Homo sapiens: one gene and its partner. The protein of the gene in region 2 purifies or fractionates together with the protein of the main gene of each other region. This does not show direct contact. Each region holds a gene or a part of one and is shown on either strand. Other genes may lie near its edges.

The links. Proteins that work in one complex are often made in the same cells at the same time.
Region 1: the proteins of DPH5 (region 2) and NMD3 fractionate together in Homo sapiens (co-fractionation; one large-scale study listed by BioGRID). This does not show direct contact.

The regions. Positions count from the first base shown.
Region 1 is NC_000003.12:161,241,811-161,245,615, forward strand, and holds part of NMD3 (60S ribosomal export protein NMD3), read left to right. Parts: intron 1-697; coding exon 698-843; intron 844-3,805. UniProt on the Homo sapiens protein: Acts as an adapter for the XPO1/CRM1-mediated export of the 60S ribosomal subunit.
Region 2 is NC_000001.11:100,991,653-100,995,095, reverse strand, and holds part of DPH5 (diphthine methyl ester synthase), read left to right. Parts: intron 1-2,355; coding exon 2,356-2,459; intron 2,460-3,443. UniProt on the Homo sapiens protein: S-adenosyl-L-methionine-dependent methyltransferase that catalyzes four methylations of the modified target histidine residue in translation elongation factor 2 (EF-2), to form an intermediate called diphthine methyl ester.

The DNA.
Region 1 (3,805 bases), on a different chromosome or scaffold from region 2:
GAACATTTGGCTTTTTGTGGCCCATTGGAACATTTAGTTTGAATATGAATTTTAACCAATTTTGTTATTACTGTAGATCATTTTTTAACATTGTCTATAGAATAAATTATTTTTTAAGGAAGACCACATTTTGGTAGGTATCTTAGTATTTGGATGTATCTTCTGCTTGATCTTTTTCATGTATTTTCTGTAATATAAGTTTCCTTTATACAAAAAGTGAGTTTATTTTGATATTTTTCAAAGTCATTCATTATCTTTATCAGTTAGGATTCATAAGTTAAAGATCTGTTAGCAATATTGGGATGGACATTCTTTACCTATCTGGTAGAACTAGGCTTTATTTCCCATAAACTAAGCAGCTAAGGTGACAGATACGTTTCTAAAATAAAGTGCCAGCACGTGAAACAGCTGTACCACTGATTGGCTCTGATCTTACTTAAGAGGCACTTAGCCCTGTGGCATTCTGGTTATAGTAACTATTTAAGATATGTTTGACATCTGATATATTTTTCTTGTGCTTTGAGAAGTTTGGGATTGGTTTATAGGAGTAATTGATGACCCTAAGGAGTGAGTTGACACTAGTTCTGTTGACCTGCCACTTCCCAGTTGGTATCTACCAGTTTATTCTTAGTTAATACATTTGATAATTGAAATATATAATTTTTCTTATGTTTTTGTGTTCTATCCTTATTTTTAGTGGCAGATATTGATGGGAGCACTTTCTGGAGTCACCCTTTCAATAGTTTATGTCATCCCAAACAGCTAGAGGAGTTTATTGTGATGGAATGCAGCATAGTCCAAGATATAAAACGTGCTGCAGGTGCTGGAATGATATCAAAAAAGGTAAGCTACATCCTGCCTGCCAGTGTATTTTTTTTTCCCCTCAGTTATTATTGTTTCAGTCCCTCTTTTAAAAAAAATTTGTTGGTGTTTCCACAGTATGGAATCCAAACTTAGCACCACATTAGGAAAAAAATTCTTTTTTTTTTTGTCTTTTTAATATGTGGTCATTGTGGAAATTGTTAGACTTAGACTGTTAAGTTAATTTATTCTCTTTTGTGTAGGAAAAATCTTTTAAATGTTTATTCCATTATATTTAAAAAAGGCATTTCTTTGCTTTATTTTTATAGAGGAGGACCTTTATTTTTGTAGTGGTTATCTTGACTTTTAAAAAGTCATCACCAAATACTAAATACTTCAGTGTGCATCTCTCACACACAGGAATATTTTTCTACATAATGAAAATGTTGTTACCATACCTATAAAACATACAGTCTACACAGTATTCTGCTCTTATCCATGGGGATACATTCCAAGACCCCCAGTGGATTTTTGAAACAACCCACAATAGTACCAAACTCTATGTGTATTGTTTTTTCCTATACATACATACCTATGATAGAGTTTAATTTATAAATTAGGCACAGTAAGAGATTAACAATAATTAATAATAAAATAGACCAATTATAATAATATACTGTAATAAAAGTTGTGTGAATGTAGTCTCTTTCTTAAAGTTATCTAATTCTACTCCACCAACCTGTTTTTGGATAGCGATTAACTGTGGGCAGATGAAAACTTTGAAAGGGAAACTATGGATAAGGGGGGGATTACTGTGTTCAGATTTCCTCATTTGTCCCAAAAGTGTCTTTTATGCCTTGTTCAAACAGGTATTCAATTGGAGACCACTCATTAAATGGGAATATTATACCTTTTTAGTCTTTTATTTAATAATAGTCCCCTTCTTTTTTCTTTTATTGGTTATGATACCAACTTCCTTAGACAACTAGTGCATTTATCTTGTAGAATACTCCACCTTCTAAATCTATCTAATTGTTTCCTCATGATGCCATTTAACTAGCTTCTTAATTCATTGTGTTTCCTCTAAACTGGAAAGTTGATCTAAAGGTTTGGTTACATTTAGGTTAAATTTTTCTTGCCAGAATATTTCAGAGATGATGCCATGTACTTTTTATTATATCAAGAGACAAGTAATGTCTGACTGTTTCACTTGTTAACATAGTGATAGTCAGATTCCTCCATTGTAATGTTATGATTTTTTTTCCTTCTGACCAGCAAGCAATCTGTGGCTTAATACTATAATAATATGCAAGTACTGAGTTCCTGTTACCTCTTTTTTTTTCTGGCTTTAGCATCTGTTGATAATTCTTGCCCATAAATTAATTATTTTATTCAGGGTTACAAAATGGTGAATTTTCTATTTCTATTCTACATTTACTAGCTGTCATTCTTAAAGAAGAGCTTTTCATTATTAACTAGGGGTTATGTAGCTTTCCTGAAATGCTCGCCTGCATACATTCTTTTAATTAATTAATTTTAGACATGATCTTGCCGTGTTGTTTGGGCTGGAGTGCGGTATGGCTTCATAGCTCACTGCAGCCTCAAACTCCTGGGCTCAAATGATCCTCCTGCCTCAGCCTCCTGAGTAGCTGGGACCACAAGTATGTGCCACCATGCCCAGCTAATTTTTTAATTTCTTTGTAGAGATGGGGTCTCCATGTTACTCAGGCTGGTCTTGAACTCCTGAGCTCAAGCAATCCTCCTGCCTTGGCCTCCCAAAGTGTTGGGATTACAGGCGTGAGCCACCTCCCCTGGCCTATGCATAAATTATTAATTCTTTTAGCAAATATTTTTAGAGTAAAGAGTTGATCTAGGAATCATTTCCAGTGGTGAAAATTAGCTTACATGTACAGGTGGTGTCTCTCTTTGTGATTATCATTGTGATCTCCTGAAGTATAAGTATTGTATCATTTACTGTATTTTCTTTTGTTTTCTTCTTCTCTCCTCCTCTCCCTTCATTTCTTTTCCTTTTTTTTTTTTTTTTTTAAAGAGACAAGGTCTCACTCTGTCTCTCAGAGCTGGAGTTCAATGGTATGATCATAGGTCACTGGAACCTTGAGGTTGTGTGCTCCAGTGATCTTACCACCTCAGCATGCTGCCACACCTGTCTCATTTCTATTTTTTAATTTTTTGTAGAGTCAATCTCACTGTTTTTTCAGGCTTGTCTCAAACGATCCTACTGCCTCCCTTATAGGAATGAGCATGAGCGCCTGCCCTTTCTTTTTTTTGAAATCCTCATATTGCCCTAAATTTATTCAATGGGAGCCCCTTCAGAATGGTTCCTATGTTGTTTTGACGTGACTCTCCTGGTCTTTGAAAGCATCCTTGATTTCTGGTGCAACACAGCATTCAGGTGTTCCAGAATCACATGTATAGTTTATAACCCATATCTGAAATCAAATGTTTCTTCAAAGATGAAAGTCTGGCTTCTTTTACTGTGAAATAGTATCTAGAGACTCCCAGGGTACCCTTGTGTGTGTGTGTGTGTGTGCGTGCTAATAATGCTTCTTGAGACAAAAATAACTTGTGATAATTTGGGAAAAATTAATGGAAATGGAAGACAGATGACATTCTACATTTTATTTATAAATTAAGGTAATGTACTTAGGGCAAACTTTTCATTTATAATAAATGTAGAGTATCATTTCCCTTCAGGCAGATATAAAACCAGATACTGTATTTTCTTGGTTTTTAAAAAATAGCTAGAAGAGGTTAATAAATTTCTTACAAGCAGAAGTCTAATAGCTAGAAAGTAAATCCTGTTAAATAAAATGTAGTCTCCCTGTTAATTGACTTTTCTTTTGCAGTTCTTAAGTTTGAGACTTGTCTTTTATTTCAGTTTCTCCTTCTGCTCTATTTCTTTTCATTTTTTTCATTTCTTTTTCTTTGACCAACTGCAATAAGAAACACTTGATTCTTTTCATAACTTTATTTTGAGATTCCT
Region 2 (3,443 bases):
TGAGAATGCATACATGTGTTTTATTTCCTTGAACAATTCAATACATTCTACTTAAATGACCTGAGTTCTAAAGATGGTTGAAAATGAGCTCTCATTAACAGTGTGAACATTAAGCATTTTTATTCTTACGAAATGATAAGCAGTATAATAGAGTAGAAATAGCAATATATTTTGTGGATTCAACACTGAGAACAGTGGTTGGCATCTAACAGACACTCAGTGTTTGTGGAATGAATTAATGCGTTGGGATTCTGAAAACATGGGTGTGAGGCCGGGTGCGGTTGTTCATGCCTGTAGTCCCAGCACTTTGGGAGGCTGAGGCAGGTGGATTGTTTGAGGCCAGGAGTTCAAAACCAGCCTGGCCAACATGGTGAAACCACGTCTCTACTAAAAATGGAAAAATTAGCTGGGTGTGGTGGCACGTGCCTTTAATCTCAGCTACTTGGGAGGTTGAGGCACGAGAATCGCTTGAATCTGGGAGGCAGAGGTTGCAGTGAGCTGAGATCACGCCACTGCACTCCAGCCTGGGTAACAGAGTGAGAAAAAAAAAAAAAAGGCATGGGTTTGAGTCCTGAGTCTGCCTCTAGTTGAGTGCTCTTGGGCAAGTTACTTCCATCTCTGAGCCTTATTTTCTTCAGATGTATAATGATAGTACTAATCCTTTTTTACTTAGAGAGGCAGTGTCTAATACAGTACCCCCTACCCACTTGTGACTAAGGAGCATTTGAAATGTGGCTAATGTGACTGAGGAACTGAATTTTTCATTTAATTTTAATTAATTAAAAAATGATACTCTGTTATTGGAAAACTTTTAAGTATGTTTGGAACAGCTTTAGTATATAAATCAACTGTTAAAACCATAAATTTTATGAAAGTTAAATACAGATCAACTATTTCCAATGAAAATTTAATATCCAAATTAAGGTGTGCTGTAAGAACATATCAGATTTCAAAGACTTAATATAAAAACAATCTCTTTAATAATTTTTATATGAGTAGGTGTTAAATTACAACATTTTGGATTAATTAAAATATTAAAATTTTTGCCTTTTTTGGCTGGGCGTGGTGGCTCATGCCTGTAATCCCAGTACTTTGGGAGGCCGAGGCAGGTGGATCACGAGGTCAGCAGTTCGAGACCAGCCTGGCCAAGATGGTGAAACCCCGTCTGTACTAAAAATACAAAAAAAATTAGCCAGGCATGGTGGCAGGCACCTGTAATCCCAGCTACTCGGGAGGCTGAGGCAGAGAATTGCTTGAACCCAGGAGGCAGAGGTTGCAGTGAACCAATATCACGCCACTGTACTGCAGCCTGGGCAACAGAGTGAGACTGTCTTAAAAAAAAAAATTGCCTTTTTACAAACTTTTTTGTTAATATGGCTACTAGAAAACTTGATTCTATATATGGCTTCATTTATATTTCTATTGGATAGCACTGACAGAATTTTTTTGAGAGTCAGTAAAATAATCTATTTGAACTGTGTTGTAAGCCACAATAGCTATATATATATATATATATATATATATATATATATATATTTATATTTTCGACAGAGTCTTGCTCTGTCGCCCAGGCTGGAGTGCAGTGGTGTCATCTCAGCTCGCTGCAACCTCCGTCTCCCGGGTTCAATTGATTCTCCTGTCTCAGTCTTCTGAGTAGCTGGGATTACAGGCGTGCGCCACCAAGCCACGCTAATTTTTTTTATTTTTAGTAGAGACGGAGTTTCACCATGTTGGTCAGGCTGGTCTCAAACTCCTGACTTTGTGATCCACCCGCCTCTGCCTCCCAAAGTGCTGGGATTACAGGCATGAGCCACCACGCCTGGCCTGCAATGGCTATATTTTTGTTAATATGATAGTTCGGCAAGCCTGATAGGCTTTTGAGGCATACAGAAATAAACGTATGCCATCACCTGAGATTTTTAAGCATCCAAGATGCTTTAGTTTACTTTTCTTAGAGGAAACAGTGAAAAGAATATGTGGTTTAAAAATGGTCATAAAAAGGACACTAAATAACCTGATTAAGCTAGAGTATAGACCAAATTGCCACTTACTTTGAATTGTTTTTACCAAAGGTATCACTTTGAATAAAGATAACTTTCATTTAGACATCTATCTTTATGTGTTCCTGCCATCATTTCAGTGAGATCAGAGGAAAGTTAAATTAGAACAATGAAAAAGCTTAAGAAATGAACAATCATCATGCTTTTGTGTATGCTTAAAGTGAGTACATGTAAAAAAACATCAAACAGAATGTAGACTGTGGTACTTGAGTATACCTGGGAGAGCTAATTGCATTAATAACATATTATGTAGTTTCATGGCTAAGAACAGTGGCATCTAGTTTTCTGCCTATAGGGGAAGGAAGATCTATGAACCTCCACGGTATATGAGTGTAAACCAAGCAGCCCAGCAGCTTCTGGAGATTGTTCAAAATCAAAGAATACGAGGAGAAGAACCAGGTACTCAAGACACTAGAAGGGCTCTCATATTATTCCTCTGTTACTACATTTAGATGTGTATATGACTTAATATCTCATACCACTATGGAAGCAAGAGTCAGTATTTTTGTATTGTACTATTTCTTGTCATTTTTGTCCAACTTTAACTTAAATCCCATAGGCTTCAAGTTGTAGTGAAAGAAAAAAAAATTGGCATTCTTTTATAGTATAATTAACACCATTCCAGAAAGTGAGGATTTTTCACAAATTAAACATAAGTCACATTTGATATAAATATATTACTGTATAAATATTTTTGTAAAATATATCTATTATGTTATCCCTAATCAATGGTGAGATCTATCCTGCAAAAATATACTTATCGTTCTTTTATTCTCCCTCCTTTCATTCTTAATATTGAGACTAGGAATAGTTTTCTTCAGGGTAAATATAAGAGAAAATTTGTTCTTATATTCCTAATATGTAGACACAGTGTGTGGTATATAATAGAAATGTTTATTGTCAATAAATCTTTATGGGAGGTTCTTTTTTTTTTTTTTGAGAGAGGGTCTCACTTTGTCACGCAGGCTGGAGTGCAGAGGCACTATCTCAGCTCATTGCAGCCTCCACCTCCTGGGCTCAAGTGATCCTCCCACCTTAGCTGAACTACAAGTGCATGCCACCATGCCCAGCTAATTTCTTTGTGTGTTTTTGGTAGAGACAGGGTTTCACCATGTTGCCCAGGCTTTTCTCGAATTCCTTGGCTCAAGCAATCCTCCCACCTCAGCCTCCCAAAGCCTCCCAAAGTGTTGGGATTACAGGTGTGAACCACCACGCCTGGCCCACTGTGAGACTTTTTTTTTTTTTTTGAGATGGGGTCTTGCTTTGTTGCCCAAGTTAGAGTGCAGTGGTGCAATCATGGCTCACTGCAACCTCTGCCTCCCGGGCTCAAGCCACCCTCTCACCTTAGCCACTTGAGTAGCTGGGACTACAGGTGCATGCCAC